7 linked regions of the Homo sapiens genome follow. The protein of the gene in region 5 purifies or fractionates together with the protein of the main gene of each other region. This does not show direct contact. Each region holds a gene or a part of one and is shown on either strand. Other genes may lie near its edges. The genes, in order: PHLDB3, STEAP3, UBE4A, FAM114A1, KIR2DL1, PLCH1 and FAM114A2.

Evidence for each region.
Region 1: the proteins of KIR2DL1 (region 5) and PHLDB3 purify together in Homo sapiens (affinity purification with mass spectrometry; one large-scale study listed by BioGRID and IntAct). This does not show direct contact.
Region 2: the proteins of KIR2DL1 (region 5) and STEAP3 purify together in Homo sapiens (affinity purification with mass spectrometry; one large-scale study listed by BioGRID and IntAct). This does not show direct contact.
Region 3: the proteins of KIR2DL1 (region 5) and UBE4A purify together in Homo sapiens (affinity purification with mass spectrometry; one large-scale study listed by BioGRID and IntAct). This does not show direct contact.
Region 4: the proteins of KIR2DL1 (region 5) and FAM114A1 purify together in Homo sapiens (affinity purification with mass spectrometry; one large-scale study listed by BioGRID and IntAct). This does not show direct contact.
Region 6: the proteins of KIR2DL1 (region 5) and PLCH1 purify together in Homo sapiens (affinity purification with mass spectrometry; one large-scale study listed by BioGRID and IntAct). This does not show direct contact.
Region 7: the proteins of KIR2DL1 (region 5) and FAM114A2 purify together in Homo sapiens (affinity purification with mass spectrometry; one large-scale study listed by BioGRID and IntAct). This does not show direct contact.

The regions. Positions count from the first base shown.
Region 1 is NC_000019.10:43,477,675-43,480,746, forward strand, and holds part of PHLDB3 (pleckstrin homology-like domain family B member 3), read right to left. Parts: intron 1,920-3,072; coding exon 1,703-1,919; intron 459-1,702; coding exon 373-458; intron 1-372.
Region 2 is NC_000002.12:119,240,834-119,244,333, forward strand, and holds part of STEAP3 (metalloreductase STEAP3), read left to right. Parts: intron 1-3,500.
Region 3 is NC_000011.10:118,390,600-118,394,099, reverse strand, and holds part of UBE4A (ubiquitin conjugation factor E4 A), read right to left. Parts: intron 3,444-3,500; coding exon 3,296-3,443; intron 1,363-3,295; coding exon 1,205-1,362; intron 1-1,204.
Region 4 is NC_000004.12:38,943,523-38,946,239, forward strand, and holds the end of FAM114A1 (protein NOXP20), read left to right. Parts: coding exon 1-35; 3' UTR 36-2,217; downstream 2,218-2,717. UniProt on the Homo sapiens protein: May play a role in neuronal cell development.
Region 5 is NC_000019.10:54,768,425-54,772,592, forward strand, and holds the start of KIR2DL1 (killer cell immunoglobulin-like receptor 2DL1 precursor), read left to right. Parts: upstream 1-1,368; 5' UTR 1,369-1,426; coding exon 1,427-1,460; exon of another isoform or gene 1,461-1,467; intron 1,468-2,245; exon of another isoform or gene 2,246-2,424; coding exon 2,425-2,460; exon of another isoform or gene 2,461-2,513; intron 2,514-2,597; exon of another isoform or gene 2,598-2,640; intron 2,641-4,168. UniProt on the Homo sapiens protein: Receptor on natural killer (NK) cells for some HLA-C alleles such as w4 and w6. Inhibits the activity of NK cells thus preventing cell lysis.
Region 6 is NC_000003.12:155,483,072-155,486,571, forward strand, and holds part of PLCH1 (1-phosphatidylinositol 4,5-bisphosphate phosphodiesterase eta-1), read right to left. Parts: intron 3,136-3,500; coding exon of another isoform or gene 3,076-3,135; intron 2,979-3,075; exon of another isoform or gene 2,732-2,978; intron 2,640-2,731; coding exon 2,285-2,639; intron 306-2,284; coding exon of another isoform or gene 295-305; exon of another isoform or gene 278-294; intron 1-277. UniProt on the Homo sapiens protein: The production of the second messenger molecules diacylglycerol (DAG) and inositol 1,4,5-trisphosphate (IP3) is mediated by calcium-activated phosphatidylinositol-specific phospholipase C enzymes.
Region 7 is NC_000005.10:154,028,911-154,032,410, forward strand, and holds part of FAM114A2 (protein FAM114A2), read right to left. Parts: intron 671-3,500; coding exon 579-670; intron 1-578.

The sequences.
Region 1 (3,072 bases), about 11 Mb from region 5:
CACGGTGCCTGTAATCCCAGCTACTCAGGAGGCTGAGGCAGGAGAATTGCTTGAACCAGGGAGGCGGAGGTTGCAGTGAGCCGAGATGGCGCCACTGTACTCAGGCCTGGGCGACAGAATGAGACTCTGTCTTAAAAAAAAAAAAAAAGAAGAAAATTAACAGTGGCTGAAGGCCAGAGTCTGGGCTCTTAATTTTTAGTCCCTGCAGTCAGGTGACCTGTTTGTTTTCTCTGCGACAAACACGTACTCCTATGAGTACCCTGACAGGAGAAGCTGCGGGTGGCTTTCCCCAGGATGAGCCAGGGATGAGATAAGGCCTGACTCCAACTGAGTCTCCAACTGGGAGGTCAGGGTGACATTGAGGGGCTTCACCTTGAAGGCACAGCGTAAGTGGTCATAATAGACTTCCTCAATGGCCTGGAAGTAGATGACACCTTTGAGCTTGGTCTCTTCCTTGTCTGGTAGGGGAGGTAAGAGAAAAAGAGAGCCAGTGAGAAAGGTGTGTCTGTGTGTGTCGAGGTGAGGGTCATTGGCCCTAAGTCCTGAGACTGGATTTGGGTAAGAAACATGGTGACAAGAGTCTGAAGGTCTCTAAAGGTTGGGAGGTGAGTGAATGTTAACGCTGGATGGGAGACTGGGCACAGAAACTGGACATGATTGGGGAGTGGGGTCTGTGGAGCTGGAATCCTAGGCCCTGAATGCTCGGCCTCTGAGAAGGGAAGGAACTCAGGGAGTGCTCAAGTGCTTTCTAGGTATAATCTCTAACCCTCTCAAACTCTCCTGGAGGGGTAAGTACATTTATCTCCATCTGACAGATGTGGAAACCAAGACTCAGAGAAGTTAAGGCACCCAGCACAAGTCACACAGCCAGAGCTGACAGAGCCAGGACTCACCAAGTAGAGTCAAATGGTCATACAGGTTAGGGAAGAAGGATTTGAGACAATACAAGCGTCCAAGGAGGCTGGGTGCAGTGGCTCAAGCCTGTAATCCCAGCACTTTAGGAGGCTGAGGCAGGCAGATCACAAGGTCAGGAGATCGAGACCATCCTGGCTAACACAGTGAAACCCTGTCTCTACTAAAAATACAAAAAATTAGCCAGGTGTGGTGGCATGAGCCTGTAGTCCCGCCTATTCAGGAGGCTGAGGCAGGAGAATCGCTTGAGCCGGGGAGGTGGAGGTTGCAGTGGGCTGAGATCGCACCACTGCACTCCAGCCTGGGCGACAGAGCAAGACTCTGTCTCCAAAAAACAAAAACAAAAACAAAAACAAAAAAAAGTGTCCAAGGAGAGGTTTGGAATAATTGATTCTCCTAGAGAAGAAGGACAAGGGCCCCAGACTCCTGGCCATTGGGGGGCTGGGGGCAGCTGACAGTGCAGGTTCAGACTCATGGGTGTCTTAGGAACATGGGCCCTGGGAAGCTTGAATTGTACTAAACTGTTATCTATGTCCCTGAGGAGGACTGGGGGTTTGAATTCTGGGTGGCTTAAAGAGGGGCTGGGGATCTGGATTCCAGGGTCTGGAGGAGAGAGAGAGCTGGGAGCCTGGACTCCTGGGTTGTAGGGAAGTTAGGAGCTAGGGAACCAAACTTCTGGATCCTGGGGAACATGGAAAGTGGGGGCCAGGACTTCTGGTGCCTGTAGAGGAAAGGCCTCCGGAGTGGAATTCCAGCGTCCTGGGGCCCATGGTGGCCAGGCTGGGCTTACCCGCATAGTAGGCCAAGCGGCGGGCTTGGCGGTCAAAGCAGAACCATCGCTTCCTCCAGGTCTTGATGCGGCCGCCCATCTTCACCAGGGGTCCACGGCAGCAGCACCCAGACACCTGCACATGTGGGCAGTTTTCCGGGTTGTGGCCCCATCCCTCCAGATGCTGCCGGAGATCCAAGATTCGCGGGCCTGGAGGGTGGGGTGGGGTGGGTGGGGCCTGGGGAGCAAAGAGACGGGGCAGCTGATGTAAGGGGCGGGGGATTCTACAGCCTGGAGCCCCTCGAGGGGAGCAAGTCATAGCAGCTTGCATGTAAGGCCCGCTACAGCCTTTAGAGGGTAATATTAACTAGGACCATCTGACAAATGCAACGGCTACGTGGATTGACTGTGATGCTCTGCCCAGGACTTTATGGACATCAGCTCCTTGGCACTTCATGGCAACTGTGAGCCCCATTTTACAAATGAGCAAAATGAGGTACAGAGAGATGACATAATGCACCCGAGGTCACACAGAGCTTCTAGGCAGCAGAACTGGGACACGAACCCAGGTATTTCTGACCCTAGAGCTCACCCTGAAACATCAGAGGCCTATCAAAAGAAATAAAGATCGGGCCGGGTGTGGTGGCTTATGCCTGTAATCTCAGAACTTTGGGAGGCTGAGGTAGGAGGATCCCTTAGGCCTAAGAATTCAAGGGCAGCCTGGGCAACATAGTGAGATCCTGTCTCTGAAAAAAAAAAATTTTTTTTGGAAAAAAGAAATGAAGATTGGAGCCTGTGTGGTGGCTTAAGCCTGTAATTCCAGCTACTCAGGAGGCTGCGGTGGGAGGATCCCTTGATCCCAGAAGTTGGAAACCAGCCTGGGCAACACAGAAGACCCCTTCTCTATTTAAAAAAAAAAAAAAAAAAAAAAAAAAAAGGAGAGAGAGAAGAGAAGCTATGTGCAGTGGCTCATGCCTGTAATCTCAGCACTTTGGGAAGCTGAAGTGGGAGGATCACTTGAGGCTATGAGTTGGAGACCAGCCTGGGCAATATAGTGAGACCCCATCTCTACTAAAAATCCAAAAAATTAGCTGGGCCTAGTGCTGCACACCTGTAGTTCCAGCTACTAAGGAGGCTGAGCCCAGGAGGATCACTTGAGCCCAGGAGATCGAAATTGCATTGAGCTATGATTGCACCACTGCACTCCAGCCTGGGTGATTGAGTGAGACCCTGTCTCAAAAATAAAAAAGAAAGAGAGAGCTTGTTTACATTATTATTGTTGTGATGAAATTAATGAATATAATCCTCTGCTAAGTACTTTCTAGGTATAATCTCTGCCCCCTCAAACTCTCCTGAAGGGGTAAGTACATTTATCTCCGTTTCACAGATGT
Region 2 (3,500 bases), on a different chromosome or scaffold from region 5:
GGAGCCAGGGCCCAGACAGGGTTAGTCACACCCTCACCTCAGGCCGCAGGGACAGGCCTCTGGGACTTCCAAGACATGTACCACCTGTCCTGCCCCCAACCCCTGCCAGCCTTCAGCAGGAGGGTTCATGCTGAGCATCAGGAGGGGGCAGAAGAATTGAACGTGGCCACTGTCCATGAAGAAGTTAGAGAAGAGTACACACAACACACATGCACACAAGAATAGGACACGTGCACACACACACACACATGCATACAAGATTAGGAAACACAAGTGCACACACAACCAGTCAGAAATGAGCTCTGAGCTTTTACACATATTAACTCATTTCATCCTCAAACAGTCTTTAGAGAGGTATAATTAGTGTTCCCGTTTTAAAGGTGAGGGAACTAAGGCACAGAGGAGCTATGTAACTCACCCAAAGGCACCCAGCTACTGGCATGTGAGGCCATGATTTCTCCCCAGCAGCCCCACCCACAGCCCGTGCCTTTAACCACCTGCCTGACCCCTCCCAGCCAAGTGGCTCCGTCCCTACATCAGAAAGGTCAAGGAAGAGGCCGCCTAGGGAGCAGTACAAGGCAGCATTACAACCTGGCATTTTCCTGTTGCAGACTGCATTTTGGTGGCAAGAGAAGCTTTGGAGGTGCTTAACGTTTAGTTTGCATTTATCCTACCGCTGAAAAGCAGGGACCCTTAGGACCATAAGTCTAGGACTTTTCATAGCACCCTAGACTGCTGGGGATGAAAGGGGCTTGGAGCTGAGCTGGTGCAGCAGCTCCTGTTAGAGAAGCCACCCAGAGAGGCCCAGGGACCTCCTATGTCCCAGCGCCAGTTAGGGGCAGACGTGGGACCAGCTCCCCTCGGCTGCAGCGGCCTCCATATCAGCTCCCTGGAAGGGAGCAGATGCCAAGTCAGGTTCTGAGCAACACCCTCAAGGCCCAGCCCTGGCAATCCCTTCCCACCTGTGATTAGGTCTGGGGTTCAACAAAAATAGGACTCAAAATCTGGATCTTCTCGCCTTGCTTCACTTTGGGCTGGTTCAGTTTTGTTTCGAGGTAAATCATTCGAGGTTTTTCAGGGATCCTCAGATGCATGTCTGCGTGAAGCCGTCCTGGCTTCCCCTTCGGCTGCCCCCTGGGCAAGAGCCTGGGCCATACCTGTGCCATTCCTGAGCTCTGTCTCTAGCTGCCCTATGTCCAGTCATTGGCGATGGGTCTTATTCAAGCCCCCTTTCCCCCAACCCACACTAGATTGTAAGCCCTCAGGGTGGGGACCGCTTCTCACTCATCCTTATATGCTTAGGAGTGTTCAGCACAAAGTCACTCAGGAGATGGCAGGCAGCGGGGAGAGGGCAGAGACAGAGGAGAGGCTTCTGTCCAGAGGGTTCCTACTTAGGATCATCCAAATCATCAGCAAATGTTGGAAAGATGGTCTGGGGGCCTCAGGCTGGCTACTCTTCCTCCCCATCAGGGCAAAACTCCCCGGGGGCTTGTGTCTCCCTGTGGTTGGGGACAGGCCTGGGTGTATCTGTCCCAGCCTTGACTGACCACAAGGGGAGACTTGGCCCTCCCGACCACAGGAGAAGAGGGATTTGAATTCACCTCGGCCCAAATTGCAGATGCTGGCCTGCGAGCCCTGAGGCCATCTGCAAGGCTCCTGGGCTGACATAACTGTCACCCAGCTCTTCATCCTCCTTCCCCGGGGCTGAAGGGGTGCCTGCAGGGTCTTCTGCCCTCCCTCCACCTGGGCCCTACTGCTGGCACGGAGCTTCATTTCTGTTGGCAGCCAGTGTTTGCTTAGTGATTACTGAATGCCGTTTGCTGGGTGCTTATGATGTGCTCAGCACTGTTCTAAGTGCTTTACACAATTGACTTATTTACTCCTACAACCTGCCCATAAGGGAAGTGCTGCCATGGTCTCCCTTTTATAGCTGAGAAAACTGAGGCACAGATAGGTCCATGGTCACACAGTTAACATAAGGCAGAGTCAGGACCAGAATCCAGGCGGACTGGCTCCAGAGCCCGGCTCCTGGACCGAGCAGCCTTGAGTAGGGACCTGGTGCAGACCCGCCTGCCGTGGACTCACTATAGGATGGGTCAGGAGGCCCGTTGTCACCTACAAAATGTAGCCCACCACCCAGGAAACGCTCCCAGAACCAGGCAGAAAATACTGTCTCCTATTCACAGGGTGGCTGTGCCTGGCGTGAGTGTCTTGGCGGGTGCCTGCATGTCTGTGCAGGAGTGCCACCCCCATCTGTGGACTCGGAAAGCATGATCCCCACAAAAGCAACCCCTCAGAGTCTCAGCTCAGCCAATCCCTGTTATCCTGTGACAGGCAGGGCCATGTTTCAAAACCATGTTAAAGATGAGCAAGAGGCTAAGGAAGTTTCCCATGCTGGCAGAGGCAGGACAGGAACACATGTCCCCTGACTCTTGACATTGAGAATGCACCCCCTTCCACCCACCTGGCCTCTTGTCCCAGCCAGTGTGGTCCCAGCTATGCAGCTCTCTGGGACATCTCTGGAAAGCTCATTGTTCTCTGTCTGGGCAGTAAGACGGAGTGAGGCTCTGACTGCCGAGGCAGACAGACCTGCCTCCTGCTCTTCCTCCCCTCAATTATTTGTGCTGCCTGAAACAAGTTCCTGAGCCTCCCTGAGCCTCAGTTCCCTCCTCTGTAAAGTGGGAATGATAACTGAATCTACTTCCTGGGGTTCTTGTGAGGACCAGAGGCCCATCACCCGAGGAAAGGCCTGACAGCAGCAATGGGTGTATGGTAGGCATCCATTAATAGGAACTGCTGCTGCTGCTGCTGCCTTATAAAAGGAAAAATCACAGTTTCAAAAACCTCTTAAGATTGCATGATTTGTCATCTGAGAGCAGAGATTGTGATCTCCATTGACAAAGATGGAAGCTGGGGCCCAGGGAGGCACACAGACTTGTCTGAAGACACACAGCTGCTTCATAGCAGAGCCGGGCCCAGCCTCCTGGTTCCCCTGCCCCATCTTTATGTCAGTCCCTGGATCCACTCCCTCACCTGGTCAGGTGTCCAGAGGTTCCAGGAGAGTGTTGTGGAAAAGTAGGAAGAGGCAGACGCCCATGGAGGGTGTTGAAAGCCACCCCAGCTGCTCTGCTGCTTCAGGGCAGGGGATCTTAAGCCCTGTGGAACTGTAGGCTGGTGAAGCTTGTGGACTTCTGCTCAGAATAATGTTCTTACATGCACCAGACAAAATAGCTTAGGGTTACAAATGAAATATATTATATGGAAACACAGCGAAAATATTTTTTAAAAAAGACTACAGTAGCATTAGGCATGCTTCTTTATTAGCACATTAAATGACAAGCTCTAGTGGCAGATCTAATGTCTACCATAATTTTATTTTTACTTTTATTATTATTATTATTATTATTATTATTATTATTATTATTATTTTGAGATAGTCTTGCTCTGTCACCCAAACTGGAGTTCAGTGGTGCGATCACTTCAGTCTTCAACTCCTGGGC
Region 3 (3,500 bases), on a different chromosome or scaffold from region 5:
AAGTTAAGGGGCCCATTAAGCAGCTAATAAGCTACCATTTATTGCTTCATTCCTGTCTTTTCTATAGTTATAATGGGGCAGACTGTCCGAAGAATAGGCAGGCTGGGGAAAGTTCATGGTTACCACAGCTGATACAACAACAGCAACAGAACGTGAGTTAATCCACATGGTGAATATAGTGTAAAACCTGAATTAGAAAAAGCAGGCTGGGTGAGGTGGCTCATGCCTATAATCCCAGCACTTTGGGAGGCTGAGGTGGGAGGATCACTTGAAATCAGGAGTTTAAGACCAGCCTGGCCAATATGGTGAAACCTCATCTCTATTACAAATACAAAAATTAGCCAGATGTGGTGGTGCTCACCTGTAGTCTCAGCTATTCGGGAGGCTGAGGCTGAAGAATCACTTGATCCTGGGAGGCGGAGCTTGCAGTGAGCTGAGATCGCGCCACTGCACTCTAGCCTTGGTGACAGAGCGAGACTCTGTCGCAAAAATAAAAAAACAGGCCAGGCACAGTGGCTCACACCCGTAATCCCAGTACTTTGGGAGGCTGAGGCGGTTGGATCGCTTGAACCCAGGAGTTCAAGACCAGCCTGGGCAACATGGTGAAACCCTGTCTCTACAAAAAATACAAAAATTAGTTGGGCGTGTTAGTGCATGCCTGTAGTCCCAGTTACTCCAGAGGCTGAGGTAGGAGGATCACCTGAGCCCAGGCTGGAGTGCAGTGGTGCGATCTCGGCTCATTGCAACCTCTGCCTCCTGGGTTCAAGCAATTCTTCTGCCTCAGCCTCCTGAGTAGCTCAGACTACATGTGCGCACCACCATGCCCCTCTAATTTTTTGTATTTTAGTAGAGACGGGGTTTTACCATGTTGGCCAGGCTGGTCTCAAACTCCTGACCTCAAGTGATCCACCTGCCTCGGCCTCCCAAAGTGCTGGGATTACAGGCATGAGCCACTGCACCCGGCCAGAAATTATTTTCTTAAGGCAGGAAGAGGTGAGGTTAGAGTTAGCATTTCTCAACAGAATGTTTTGTTTTGAAATGTTTATATCCTAGCAATTGAAACCAAAATGTCTTCCAACATATCAGTAAATCAATAATATGTGGTATGTGTTGGGTGCAAAGTACTGTCTTAGGTGCCTGGGAGAAAAAGATAGCAAACTAATATATATATATGCTCTTGAGTCTGTTTTTGGGACTGGCCTACCTGAGCAAATGTCTTGCAATGGTGGATCTATCCACAGTGACTCTGGAAGATGGCAGCACCACAGGGTCACACATCAGTGTGCTCATAATGGGATCCAGGAACTCATCACAGGCATCTGCATAGGTTTCCTCTTCCTGTTGTTGGAGGTCTGCAAGAGACTGAGTATACAACATCTGGTAGTTAAAGTGAATTCACAGTGTAGCTGAATTCAGCGTGCTCAATGACAGAGCAAGACTCCATCTCAAAAATAAAAAAACAGGTCATTAATAACCCTTGACAGTGACAGTGACACACGTGAGCTTCATTTTCTCAAAAACAAGCCAAGATATTCTAAGAACAAATTAAGCATTGAGCCCCAACTCTGGACCTTTAGGTTGGCTCAGCTGCTGGCAGTCATACTGGAAATGGGTTTAAATGTTAGGAGGAAAAGAAATACATCAGATATAACATCCATCTGGCAACAGTTCTGTTGTAAATGCCATAATTCAAAAGTGGATGGAGAAGGGAGAATGGAGGAGGGTATTATTTGCATAATTAGAGTCACTCATGCAGCCTGCGTATGAAAAGCAGTTTTTGATTTTTGATACAAACAGGTATAGGAATTTTAAAGTCATTTTGACATTTAATTCCTTCACAACTTGAGTTCCTCAGGGATCCACCTGGCTAAGCTCTAAACAAAGATGAAGTCCAACTCAATAAAAAAGAAACTCAATAGAGGGAAGACTGACAGCAATAAGGAAGGTTTTCTATTAGACTTTTGTGCCATGATCTTCCTTCTTCTTACCTGCTAATAGAGCTCTGTCATACTCTAACCAAAGGGATTTAGCTAAATACAATATAGTATTTTAATCTTTAAAATGTATGCATATTCCAATAAAAGCCAACTACCAACTACAAACATAGAGACAATCCAAATAAAAATTAATGACTGAAAACTACTCATCTTTTTTTTTTTCTAAAAAGTTATTCTGCATTAACACCCTAGCTTTTAAAATCTATTGGTAACACTGTGCATAAACGTTTTCATAAAAACATCTTACATAAATGTGCACATTCTTCTCTTCTAGTTGAGGTTTCTTAAATTTTTTTTTTTTTCTTTTTTGAGATGGAGTCTCGCTCTTTTGCCCAGGCGGGAGTGCAGTGGCACTATCTTGGCTCACTGCAAGCTCTGCTTCCTGGGTTCACGCCATTCTCCTGCCTCAGTCTCCTGAGTAGCTGGGACTACAGGTGCCTGCCACCACGCCCGGCTAATTTTTTGTATTTTTAGTAGAGATGGGGTTTCACCGTGTTAGCCAGGATGGTCGCTATCTCCTGACCTTGTGATCTGCCCGCCTCGACCTCCCAAAGTGCTAGGATTACAGGCGTGAGCCACCGCGCCTGGCCCTTAAATTTCTTTTTTCTTTTTTTTTTTTTGAGATGGAATCTCGCTCTGTTGCCCAGGCTGGAGTGCAGTGGTTGCGATCACTGCAACCTCCGCCTCCCAGGTTCAAGCGATTCTCCTGCCTCAGCCTCCCGAGTAGCTGGGATTACAGGCGCCTGCCACCACACCCAGCTAATTTTTGTATTTTTAGTAGAGACAGGGTTTCACCATGCTGGCCAGGCTGGTGTTGAACTCCTGACCTCAAGTGATCTGCCCACCCTGGCTTCCCAAAATGCTGGGATTACAAGCATGAGCCACTACTGTACCCAGCCGATTTCTTAAATTTCTATTCTCACTCTCATGTTGACAAGAATAAAACTAAGAATATTGTAGTTCTAAGTGACTGTCCAAAAAGAACCATCTGTTTATATTTTCTCTTGGTAATGCTCTTTTTCTCCCTGAAATAGAGTAAAAATCAGCACAGCTGAGGTGACAATCTGATTTTTTTTGCATGGATTTTTAGGAGATGGGGTCTTGCTATCTTGCCAAGGCTGGAGTGTAGTGGCTATCCACAGGCATGATCATAGCACACTGCAGCTTCAAACTCCTGGGCTTAAGTGATCCTCTAGCCTTAGGCTCTTAAGTAGCTGGGACTACAGGCTTGAGCCATCATGCCTGGCTGACAACGTGGTTCTTAATGAAATCAGCAAACAATTCCTCCTCTTCCTCACCTTGATTCTCTCTGCCAAGTTGCTGAAAGCCATAATCATATTCCCAGGCTTATTTATTTTCTTCAAGACTCGAACTGTCTGTGCAAAGAGAGTTGGGGAATAGGAACGTCCATCCTTGGGCACAGTGGCACAGAAATTCTCCTCATCCCTGGAACATTAGCATCAGAAAAAAACTGATCACCAGAGGGTTGGTCAATGGAAGAGA
Region 4 (2,717 bases), on a different chromosome or scaffold from region 5:
ATATCCAGACCAGTTGTTTGAAAGCACAGCCGTGACCTGGCCAGACTCCATCTAGTTAAAGGAGACAGCTGGCCGCCTTGCCTCAATATGTACCATTTAAGGGGATGTTCTCTGTGCGCCTGGCCACAGACATCCATTTGAGGACACTACAAGCAATTTTGCACAGACAATATTGAGAATGCAAATTTAGAGAGAGTTATCATTTCTCTCAATGTGTATAATTGTTTTTACAAACAATTGTGTTTTCTTTATGTTAATTTAAACTTACACAGCTTATATTGAAAATTTCCTTTCATCTGAAATTTATTTACAAATATTCGTGTTCATTTTCCTGGTTAAGCATGCTATATTTAGAAACTCATGGGGAGACCTTAGACTTTTGTTTAATCCTTTATGTTTCAACCTTTAAATGTTCCATTCTTATAGTATTACTTTAAATCAATTCTAAAACTGAACTTTGTTTTGTTACATAAATGTCGCAGGCAAAAATAACACTACTTATAGATTTTACCTATTATGGTAAAAAATAGGAACATATTGTCATTCTTTTTTTTTTTTTTTTTTTGAGACAGAGTCTCACTCTGTCGCCAGGCTGGAGTGCGTTGGCACAATCTCGGCTCACTGCAACCTCCGCCTCCTGGGTTCAATCGATTCTCCTGCCTCAGCCTCCTGAGTAGCTGGGACTACAGGTGTGTGCCACCACGCCCAGCCAATTTTTTTTGTATTTTTAGTAGAGACAGGGTTTCACCATGTTGGCCAGGATGGTCTCGATCTCCTGACCTCGTGATCTGCCCGCCTCAGCCTCCCAAAGTGCTGGGATTACAGGCTTGAGCCACCGCGCCCGGCCGGTCATTCATTCTTGCAACAAGCATTTATTGAGCACCTACTGTGTGCTCACAGTAAAGAAACGTGATCTTATCCCAGTAGAGGTAGATATTCTGAAAAAGAATAATTCTTAAACTGCTTAAAACAGGGGTCCCCACCCCCAGGCCACAGACCAGTACCAGTCCGTGGCACTGGTTAGGAACCAGGCCACACAGCAGGGGGTGAGCGGTGGGTGAGTGAGCACAGCTTCATCTGTATTTACAGCTGCTCCCCAGAGCTTGCATTACTGCCTGAGCTCTGCCTCCCGTCAGGTCAGCAGCAGCATTAGAGTCTCATGGGAGTGCGAACCCTGTTGTGAACTGCACATGCGAGGGATCTAGGTTGTGCACTCCTTATGAGAATCTAATGCCTGATGAATCTAATGCCTCATGATCTGAGGTTGAATAGCTTCGTGCCGAAACCATCCCCCACCCCCATCCCGCTACCCCGAGTCCGTGAAAAAATTGTCTTCCATGAAACCGGTCCCTGGTACCAGAAAGGTTGGGGACCACTGGCTTAAAATACCAATAAATTTTTGAACCTTAAAAACTTTGAAGAACAAGGTAAATTGGTGTTTTATTTAATGTCCTACCCTTTAATTTGTTGCATTTTCCTATACTCTTTACACTATTTTATCCCAAACTATGTATATGAGGTGAAAATATATATGAAAAGGGATACTGAAGAATATTTAGTTTAAAATTAATTTCTTACGATCACGAGCACATGGTGGCATAATTACAAAGCTTGGAAGTATTCAAATAGAAAATCAAAGGTGTTTCAATACAGTAGAATCCCAGGACTGCATTTTAAAATCGCCTCACAGATCACACTCGCTGGTGGCAAATATCATCATCGTTGCTAAAGGACAGAAAATACTGATGTGTGTTTTAACTAACTGGTATATTGATCCATGGGAGGCTGCACAGAAGACCCTGCGGCCAGGAGGGGCATTGTCAGTGGCTGCTTCTCCTGAGCTCCACGCCTTCATTGCAGCTGCATGTTCGATACAATACACCTGCTTCACAGCCCCATGGACATCCCTACAGGTACTGTCATGTGAAGCCTTGCCTAGTAGTTCTCTCCAGGGCAAATGAAGCTCACAGTTTTGCAAGGTGGAAACCTCTTATTCACATTTGCTTTGATTCCCCGATGGAGTAGACTGCCTTTGTTCCATACAGGCAAAGTAAGGATATTTTAATATCATCCTACTTCTTATTAGCATTTCATTTGTCTATGTACTGTATTTCATTTGTATGTCTCCTGAAACATCCAAATAGAGAACATAAGAACACTTTATGTACAATCTGGAAAAAAATTACCTGAGAAATCAATTAAAGATTTTTCCCCTTTTCTGATTGCCAGAAATGTTTTTATTAAGTCTAGAGAATGATTAACTGATGAAAATGTTGCATTTACCTCTTCATCAATTTTAGACTTTTTATGTGTAGGGCAGAGGAAATGATATAGATTTACAATTTCTTCACATCAGTTTTTTGTTGTTTTTTGTTGTTTTGTTTTTTGCATCAGATGGGTTTAGATATTAAGTGGAAATGTAAAAGAGAAACAAGTGGCAGGGCTCAGTGGCTCACACCTGTAATCCCAGCACTTTGGGAGGCTGAGGTGGGCGGATTACCTGAGGTCAGGAGTTCGAGAGCAGCCTGGCAGACATGGTAAAACCCTGTCTCCACTAAAAATACAAAAAAATTAGCCGGATGTGGTGGGTCGCGCCTGTAGTCCCAGCTACTCGGGAGGCTGAGGCAGGAGAATCGTTTGAGCCTGGCTGGCAGAGGTTGCAGTGAGCCAAGATACACCACTGCACTCCAGTCTGGGCGGCAGAGGGAGATCCCGTC
Region 5 (4,168 bases):
GTTATTTGCAAACTCTGTGCCATTTCATATAAGAGGCTTGAGCATCTACAGATTTTGGTATCTGAGTGGAGATCTCGAAACCAATCACCCACGAATAGTGAAGGATGACCGTATATGACTTTTATTTCTCAAATTTAAATATAAATCATAAAAAATGTACAACTAGATAAAAACTAAGAAGTGTTTTTATAGTGTGAGTTAGATTTATTTTTTCCTAGGTATAACCCATTGGTTTAATATTATTTATTGAGAAGACATTCTATGCCACCTTAAACCACACGGCAGCCTTTGTCAACTCTAAAGGGACTGTGTGTACACGGATGTACTTTAGACACTGTTTCTGCTAAGGGGCTCTCTGTGTCCACACTCTTGATGATGCTGCACTTTATGTAGCCTTATAGAACCCTTTAAATTTAGTAGCCAGAGCTCTCTAATTTGTTATTATAGGCTATTTGCTTTTTTTTCTTGAGGCGGAGTCTTGCTCTGTCGCCCAGGCTGGACTGCAGTGACACAATCTCAGCTCACTGCAACTTCTGCCTCCCAGGTTCAAGCGATTCTCATGCCTCAGCCTCTTGAGTAGCTGGCGTTACAGGTGCCTGCCACCAGGCACGGCTAATTTTTGGATTTTTAGCAGAGACACGGTTTCACTATATTGGCCAGGCTGCTCTCAAACTCCTTATCTCAGTTGATCCGCCCACCTCGGCTTCCCAACGTGCTGGGGAAACTTGATTTTCTATAGCATTATGTTACTGGATATTTCTGTAAAATTTAAAATGAGGGAGGGAGAGAGACAGACGGAAAACAAACTCCAGAGTTGGGACTCTGGAATCTTGGGTCATGAGACAAATTTTAGATTAAACTACAAAACTCCAGAATTTACAGGTGGGGTTTTTACTGATAAAGTACAATTCTAAGATTGTAAATAATTGCATAATCCTTCCCTGGGAATTTAAATCATTTTAACTGGTTCTGCTGTAATACTAGAAATACAAGCATGAAAAATTCTAATGGTTTATTAGTGACAATGACTCTGAAAACATTAATAATACCTATTAGATATTTTGCATATTACACAGGAAGAAGAGTTTGAATCTCAGATAAAAACAATAGAAATACATGAAAAGTCTTTCATGTTAGCACAGATTTTAGGCATCTCGTGTTCGGGAGGTTGGATCTCAGACGTGTTTTGAGTTGGTCATAGTGAAGGACACTAGGTGTCAAATTCTAGCGAGAACAATTTCCAGGAAGCCGTGTTCCGCTCTTGAGCGAGCACCCACTGGGCCTCATGCAAGGTAGAAAGAGCCTGCGTACGTCACCCTCCCATGATGTGGTCAACATGTAAACTGCATGGGCAGGGCGCCAAATAACATCCTGTGCGCTGCTGAGCTGAGCTCGGTCGCGGCTGCCTGTCTGCTCCGGCAGCACCATGTCGCTCTTGGTCGTCAGCATGGCGTGTGTTGGTGAGTCCTGGAAAGCAATAGAGGGAGGGAGTGAGGGGATGGAGATCTGGGCCCAGAGGTGGAGATATAGGCCTGGAGGTGGAGTTATGGGCCTGGAGTGGAGATCTGGGCCTGGAGTGGATATATGGGCCTAGAGATGGAGTGATGGGCCTAGAAGTGGAGATCTGGGCCCAGAGGTCGAGATATAGGCCTGGAGGTGGAGTGATGGGACTGTAGTGGAGATCTGGGCCTGGAGTGGAGATAGGAACCTGGAGGGGAGATAGGAACCTGGAGGGGAGATATGGGCCTGGAGGTGGAGATATGGGCCTGGAGTGGAGTCATGGGCCTGGAGGTGGAGTTATGGGCCTGCAGTAGAGATATGGGCCTGAAGTGGAGACATGGGCCTGGAGTGGAGATATGGGCCAGGAGTGGAGATATGGGCCTAGAGGTCGATATCTGGGCCTGGAGTGGAGATATGGGCCAGGAGTGGAGATATGGGCCTAGAGGTCGATATCTGGGCCTGGAGAGGAGATATGTGCCTAGGATGGAGATACGGGCCTGGGTGTGGAGATATGGGACTGGAGAGGATATATGGGCCTGGAGTGGAGATATGGGACTGGAGAGGAGATATGGACCTGGAGTGGAGATAAGGGCCTGGATTGGAGATATGGGCCCAGGGTGGAGATCTGAGCCTGGATTGGAGATATGGGCCTGGATTGGCGATATGGGCTTAGGGTGGAAATATCGGCCTGGAGTGGAGATATGGGCCTGGAGTGGAGATATGGGCTTGAGGTGGGGATATGGACCTGGAGGCTGGGTCTCTGCACAGCCGACAGCCCTGTTCTTGGGTGCAGGTAGGCACTGAGGGTGAGTTTACCTTCAGCCCAGGAAGGGCCTGGCTACCAAGACTCACAGCCCAGTGGGGGCAGCAAGGGTGCCCTGGTTTGCCTGCAGATGGGTCATCCATCATGATCTTTCTTTCCAGGGTTCTTCTTGCTGCAGGGGGCCTGGCCACATGAGGGTGAGTCCTTCTCCCAACCTTCGGGTGTCATCTCCCCACATAAGAGGATTTTCCTGAAATGGGAGGGAAGTCCTGTCAGGGAGTCTCTCATAAACTAGGAAGAAGGGACCCTGGGGTGCTGGGCCCACATTTCTGACCTTGCCTCCCTGGCCTTTCATTCCCTTGGCAGAGTCAAGTTCTGTGGGGACCAGGGTTAGACTACGGTGCTCAAAGCTGGGGTGTGTGGTGGGGAAGTGGTAGGAACAGCAGATCCTCTGAGGACAAAGGTGTTACTCACACACTTCAGCGTTTCCATGACGGTAGGGGCTGCAGTGTGGCTGCTGTCATTCTACCAGAAGAGGTGGGAAAACCACAGCCATGGCCCTGACATTCCAATCCTCTGATGGGGACTCAGTTGTTTATTTTCGTTCAGGCATCGGCTGATATTCCATTCTCAAAGGACATGCCCTCCACCCCATGTCTACCCTGTGTTGTTTTATGTGAGTAATCTTACAGTATTAAAATCTAGTAGGAGTCTCTTACTCAGCACTTGCTCAAAGTTCTCAGCTGACACTTTTGTTGTAGGGAGACACCTTGTGTTTGCGGGATGGGTCCTTCCTTTAGCCCTGGGCACCAAGGTGTGATAGCAGCCATAGAAACTTGGAAAGCGAGGAGAATCTTCAGAGCACAGGGAGGGAGGGGCGGCTCCACATCCTCCTCTCTAAGGCGGTGCCTCCTTCTCCCCACGGTGGTCAGGACAAGCCCTTGCTGTCTGCCTGGCCAAGCCCTGTGGTGCCTCCAGGACATGTGATTCTTCAGTGTCATTCTTATCTTGGGTTTAACAACTTCAGTCTGTAAAAGGAAGATGGGGTGCCTGTCCCTGAGCTCTACAACATAATATTCTGGAACAGCCTTTTCATGGGCCCTGTGACCCCAGCACACGCAGGGACCTATACATGTCGGGGTTCACAACCACACTACCCCAGTGGGTGGTCGGCACCCAGCAACCCCCTGGAGATCACGGTCACAGGTCAGAGGGCTCCTGTCTGGGATTCTCCTTGTCCCACCTCCTGAATCCCAGAGCTCCTGGTGGGCGTGTCCTTGCGGGTCCCATCATGCAAGTCCTGACTGTATTTGGGGTAAAGGGGGATTGAATACAGGGAAATGGGTGCTGTGGTGGGAAGAATAATTGTCCCCAGTGATGACTACATTCTAATCCCTGGAGTCTGTGACTATTTATGATATAGGGGAAGGGACTGAAGGAGAAGATGGAGCTCAGGTTGTTGATGAGTTGACCTTGAGATGGGGAGACAGCCTGGACTGTCCTGATGGGCTCAGTGTAGTCACAGGGGTCCACATGAAAGGAGGAGGAAGAGGGGAGTGGGGATTACAGCAGCATAATGGGAGTCTCCATCAGCTTTGAAGGTGGAGGAAGTCCAGGAGCCATGAATGCAGGTGGCCTATAGAGGCTGGAAAAGTCAAGGAACTGATTCTCCTGAGTCTCCAGAGGGAACGAAGCCCTGCAGGTGCCTTGATTTTACCCACGACAAACAGGGTCCGATTTCTGTCTCCAGAATTGGAAGGGGTTAGTGTGCTCTCTCCTGGTGCCATGCTTCTGATAATTTTCTACAGCAGCAACAGGAAACCAACACTGGAACCCAGGTCAAGGACAAGTTAAGAAACAACACAAGGATAGCCAGGCATGGTGGCAGGTGCATGTAATCCTAGC
Region 6 (3,500 bases), on a different chromosome or scaffold from region 5:
TTTAGGTGACATCTATCACTTTATGTAGGACCTGCAAACACTCATGTTGTCTTCGGACAGACAAATGGAGAATGTAAATCTGTTACACTGTGACAGAATATAATTATGGATTGCATAGGTTTGCAACAAAGTGTCTGTGTGATGAATAAATGGTAAAATATATTTATAGGAATTTCACTGGAGCTTCCCTTTGAATATCTATTACATCTGCTAAGGATGTAATATTCATTGTCAAAAAAATGTCAATGAGTTACCATACTTTTACAGTGAGGATTACCTTAAGTTGTTTCCTATTCAGATTTGTACTACACAGAAGCATGGCAATAGAAACAGAACAAGACAGCTCTGTTAAACAAAGCATTGTGGTACCTGTAAGCAAGATACTATAAGCTTTCAAAGTTATACATGTATTAGTTAAAACAAAAAAAGAAGAAAAGAAGAAAAACATAATAATATCATTTTCAAAACATTTTGGGAGCATATTTAATTTAGTCAATTAATTTCTAAAATAATTGGAAGGTGCAATAAATGCATTAAAATATCAATATCTGTTGAGTTAAAATGTAAAGATAAAAATTGGTCATCAATTCCATGTCATTGCTAATATCTAATTTTTTGTTAATCATATATTTCTTTTTAATACACAAATTTCATATTGCATCCTTCCCTAAAAGTGGCAGTAAGTTGTCAGGCACAGTAAAGGAAAACCATAAAAACACAATTCACAGTAATTTGGGATAGCCCATCATGGTTAGTATACTGCTAGGAGAGTATGAGGTATTCAATTCTTCATCAGATTATTTTAATAATTTAATGCTTTCAGAGTCATGATATATAAGAAAAAGAACTTGTTCAACTTGTTATTAAATAGTTTCCAAACTAAAAATATTCATCATAAAAATTTTGAAAACCTCAAAAAATTATAAAGAAAAAATTAAATACCATATGATGTTACCACTGAGACAGCCACTGTAAGATTTTGCAGAGGAACAGAATAATATATAGAATTTTGTAGTCTGCTTTTTCTGTACTTAATGCAACATAACTATGTATTGTTTTATATTTACCGAAACTTTAATACACATGACTAATTTATATAACTGTTTTTTAAAAGTAGACAAGAAACATTACCTCAAAATTGCTTTCTAACTCACCTTAATGGTATTAACATCTTAACTGTGGCATTAACAGATAGAACCAATTTCTACTGAATATAGCTTTATTTTTCCCAAAGATGGGGTTTTAAAATACATTTTAAGGCACATGTTTTATCTCTTCTCTGACACTGCTCTTAGCAAAATTTCAAGCTTTTAAATGTTCTTTTTCTCCTTCAAATAAACCACTGAAGAATATCTTGTAACAAAAATCAATACAAGTAAAATGGTGTTTGTGGGAAAAGAGAGCACTGAAATTAGACCATTTGATAAAAGTTAAAAGAATAATTTTGCTAAAGGAAATCAGTACCACATTTTACTTGTCTGAGATGATTCTGATTTAATTAAAACATATTTGTTGCAGAGATATCAAATGCACACAGTTTTGGCGCTTAAATTTACCCCCAGATAGGATGGGTTGGGAGTCACCAACATCAGTCAAAAATTCTCTGGCACACTGCAAGGCGGTCTTCACTCTTTATTGAGCTCCTGATATGAGTCAATGATACACTCAAATTAAGGAAAAAGACAGGCAGCACCTGGTCCCTATGCTTGTGGAGCCCACAACCGTGCTGAAGCTGCAGGCACACCTCTATCTCTGTCAGCATCCAAGGATCAGGGAAGTGAGGCCACAGGAAAACACTGCCTGAGCCACATCTTGAGAAAAAAGATTTGCCTGTTTTTGAAAAAGGTGGCTCGTTTTTAACATCTGGCTTTCTTTCTCCATAAACATTTCCAATCATGGAAATGTGTTATATGGTAAGAAAAGTAATACAACTATATTCACCCTCAAAACAAATCAGTAAATATGGCACTCATTTGGAAAATCAATATTTCAAATCCTATTTTGCAGGTTTCATCTTCCTCTCTGTGCCATCACACCTAATGGCTCCCCTATCCCTCACTGTCAATTTCAGATGTTGATATTATGAAGCTCTTGGTGAGGAGGAAATGGATCTACCTGGCCCCCAAAGTTTAAAATCTTCTGGTCTGGAAGATCACATTACAAAGTATTTATTTTTCAGTATATTTTACTTTGACTACAGAATGTCAGCCACTTCATAATGGTAAACAGGGACTGACATGCAGCCTAGAAGGGTTTATTCTCAGAGAAACTTAAAGCATCTTACCTAGAGAGTTTTCTTTTCCTTCAATGTCTTTTGCTGTTTCAGATACAGGCAGCGACAAAGCTCCCAGAAGGTTTCTGTCAACAGGCATAGAGACAGGGCGTGCTTGCAAACTGCGTGTGGTCCTCCTCAGCACGCCATCTTGATCTCTTGTGGCCTCGGACACAGAATCCTTTATCTCCACCATTTCTTGGAAGCCCATTTTGCTCTTTTTCCTGCCTTTGGCTGGGGCGCTAGCTGTGCGTCGCAGAATTCTATCTCCAATGGATCGCTTCCGTACATAATGGGAATTGTTTTCTGAAGAACTGTGCCTAGGATTCTTATTGAACAGTCCCTTCAGACCCTGGAGTTGTCTGTTCTGAAGACACAAAAGAACCAACCACAAGTTAAGCAAATGCCATCACATCAACAACTTGCCTTGAAAATGACAGCTCCATGAAAAATGAATATAAACCAAAATCGTACAGCCATTGAAATATATTCAAACCAAGAAAGCAGCAGCTCACAGCATGTTTGCACAACTTCATGCACATCTTATCAACCTTACTTTGCAAGGACTTCAGCCTTCCATTCTTACATCAAGCTTTCCCAGAAGTTTCCTACCCAGAGATGACAAAGTGGTAGGAAAAGTCTCCACAGCTCATAGACTGCTATGAACTTCAGGCGCCTTAAAGCAACAGATGCATGTTTCAAAGTGGTAAGCAGGAAGATGGAGTGATATGAAAAAGCATGCTGCCATAACCACTTAAAAAGAAATATGCCAGCCAGAACAAAGCACCATGCTGAGAAACTACCTTTGTAGCTCCTAGAAAGTGCAATATAGTATAACTGGGGTTGAGTATTAAAGGGCTCCACTGTAAAGGAAAAAAACAAAACACAACAAAACACAATTGGGGCTCATTGAAGAGGGTGTCACAAGTAAACACAAAAGAAAAAATGCATACATGTCTATAAACCCTTTCTCTTAGTTTTGGGGATTTTTAGTCTTATGCTCATTCATTGTTCAACCAATATCCACTACACTGTGATGTGTGGATCCCAACCCGAACACATCTTGAAAGGAATAAAGAGTATGACTCATAAATGGACATTTATTTAGCAGAGAAGATGGAGGTGATATAGAACACTTTCAGATTTTAATTTATTTCTGGCTCAAGTTTGTTTTTTTTTTTTTTTTTTTTTTGAGACGGAGTCTCGCTCTGTCGCCCAGGCCGGACTG
Region 7 (3,500 bases), on a different chromosome or scaffold from region 5:
ATTACGGTAATACTGTTTCTTACTCTGGGTGTTTCACACTGAAAATTCAAACAACACTTGTTACATTCTTCTGTATGTATATTTCAATAAAAAGTTAAAATTTAAAAAAAACTAGCTATCTATCCTCATGTAGCAAAGATATTTAGCTTCCTAGATAATCCTCTTACAAATGTTTTTAATCATACATAGTTTTGCAAATATCTGTCATAAAGATCACATTTCCCCTTTGCCTAAAAGATGCAACTATGAGAAAAATATTTTTGTAAAGTAGACATTTTTTAGGGCCACCAAATTAAGAATTCCTAATCCATAAAATAATACGTATATTGCCTCTCTGTAACTCCTACTCCCTTATTTATTGCTACTCCTTTATTTCCTACTTTCTTCCTTATTGCTTTAATGAAAGTTTTCAAGTAGCATTCACTCCACCCATAAGACCAAAGTGACCGATCTTCAGTGGCTTGGACTCCTTTAAAAGTAATCAGTCCACATGGCTGTTCAAAGAAAAGAGAGAGAAAGATATGCAAACCCATTATAATAATGGAAAGGAACAGACCACCTTGCACTTTTTTACTTACTGTGCTCTGAACAGCAGTAGAGATGGTAGAGAATACACCAAATGCCCCAGCCACTGGGGAGGAGTTTTCATTCTCTTTGGCATTTGTCTCTCCTACAAGAGGGAGGGGATGTGTAAACATGAAGGGAAGGTCCCTTAACTCTCAGGCTTTATTAGCATCTATGTGAATTTTTTAAAACTAGACCCTGCTTACTACATACTAGGCCTTAGCCCTTTTTATCATTTTAAACCATTTGCTTATTTTAAAATGAAAGCTAAGATAGGCAGTTTTCATTTTCTTTTCATTTCGAAAATAAAATCCAGTTTTGTAAACAAACTGCTGATATATACAACAGCCTATATGTTGTATGATTCCAATTATATAATCTTCTGGACAAGGTCAAACTGTAAGGTCAGAAAACAGATCAGTAATTGCTAAGAACTGAGAGTAAGGAGAACAGTGACTACAAAAGGACGTGAGAGAACCTTTTTGGGGTAATAAAAATTTTCTTATGTCTCAATTATCAATACAGATATAGGAAACATTCTATATATCTGTATTGATCATTCTATATAGAATGTTTTCTATATCTGTATAATCACAGTGTACTATGATTACACAGTATAAACAGAAGTATATATACTGATCAAAACATGTAAAACTGTACACCTAAAAAGAATAAATTTTACTGTGTGTAAATTATAATTTGATAAACCTGATTTTTAAAAATCCAGTCTATTTTAAATTTTATCCTAGAAAATTATGATTAGTAGAAATCAAACAGACATACATTACAAAGATAGGTATGTTTCAAAACAAAAATCCATTAACTTAAAAATTTCACATAGGAGAACAACCATTATACCAAATAATTTCAGTATTATCAAATATTATAGAGAGGACTTCCACTTCTAGCATGATGGATTAACTGGTATTAGATATGACCTCCTGCCACAACAACTGAAAAACTGGACAATATATAAGAAGCAACTGTCTTCAGACATAGGACAATAGGCAGTACAAGACTTCGGTTCACACAAGAAGAACAACAAAGTAAACCTTACAATTGGCTTGGCTTTCTGTATAGAGGAGCTTTCCAGGCCATGACAGAGGGAGGAGAAACCCAAGTAGGGCATGGCAATCAGTTTGAGTGGAAGAAACGGAGACTGGAATCTGGGAATGCTGAAGCAATCGGAATTTGCAGGTCAGAAAACCGTAGAGGAGGAAGCTACATAGCTAAAAAGTTCTAAGAATCCGCATAGGCATGCCCTAAGACACCTTTAGGTGTTTTTGCTTAAATACTGCACTGCTGAGGCACTGGGAGGCTCCATAAGTCTGTACAAAGAACTACCATGGAGCTCTAAGCTAAGCAATCCCCAGAGCTCACGCTAGGCTGAGAGACATTTGACCTCCAACCACAAAAGCAGAGACTTTATATTAAACACCTGGGAATTAAGGTGGAGACTTCGGAAGAGTCAAGCCTTAGCAGCAGAGATAAACAGTACTTAGTTAGAGTAAAGGCCACTATAGACTCACCCTAAACAAGCTTTACAAAAAGTCTTGGCCAGACACAGCAGCTTATACCTGTAATCCCAGCACTTTGGGAGGCCGAGGCAAGAGGATCACTTGAGGTCAGGAGTTTGAGACCAGCCTGGCCAACACAGCAAAACCTCACCTCTATTAAAAGTACAAAAATTAGCCAGGCATGGTGGCCCATGCTTGCAATCCCAGCTATTTGGGAGGCTGAGGCAGGAGAAGAACTTGAACCCAAGAGGCAGAGGCTGCAGTGAGCTGAGATCGCACCACTGTACTTCAGCCTGGGCGACAGAGTGAGACTCCCTCTCCAAAAAAAAAAAAAAAAGCCTTAAAGCATCAATTTAAGTTGCAAATACCTTAACTGCCCGCCGACAAAAGGAAAGCAGAAGATAGCCCCCTTTAAAGGAAGAAAACAAAATCCCTAATAGATGATCAATGATTTCCATCAATGGCCTATGCTTATCTCAAAATTCTGAAAATATACATGTTGACTACAAGACACATCCTTGGCAGAGGAATTAACCTCCTTCCTCAGGAACTTTAGAAGATAGAAGGGGTTTAGTATCAAAAGGCAGTCCATTGTAATTTTGGAAAGTTCTCCCTGTTAAACTCTTTATTAAACTAAAACTTAACTCTATATAACTTCCACTGAGTGGTACTAGTTACTAGTTCTCCCCATAAACCATGAATAATAAACCTAATCCTCTTCTCCATGCTAGTCTTCAGAAAAAGACCAGGATATTCTCCCAATCTCCCTTCTCCAGATTACCAGATTCAATCTCTTATAAGACTTTCTCTTGTAAGACTTTAATTCTAGACATTTCACTATTGTGAAAGAAAATAAAACTCAGGACCCCAAATTTACTATGCCAAAGGGAACAGTTAAGCTGAAAGCTAAGTTACACAAAAACTGTCTTTCCTTTTGTTCCTAAGCAGAAAGGCCAGACAGAAGGCCAGATGTTTCCACAGGTAGCTACTCTACGTTTACTTTATTTCATGTAAACTGCCAATTTACTGAGCATAAGACAAATACATAATTGACTCTACCTCTGCTCTTTCCTTTTACACGTAAAATGTGGATTCAGTGAACACTGATCAAAGATTCAAAAGAAGGCAACCACTTGCCCCTCTTATCTACCCTCCCCTTTCTTTACTTCCTCTTTCCCCTAGAGCCCACTCTTCTTCCTTTAAATATTGAAGTCACCAGACCCTCTTCAAAAAAAGTATGGAAGGTAGATTGTTTCTGTGGTTTGTGTTCCTTTTTCCCAGGTGCATCCTCAAACTTAGCAAAATAAACCTCTAACTTGATTGAGACCTGTCTCAGACACTTTTTGATTCACACTATCTAGCTGACTCTTTTCTGGATTCACCCAGTTTTTCAAAGCCCTTCTTAAAACATGGCCCTCT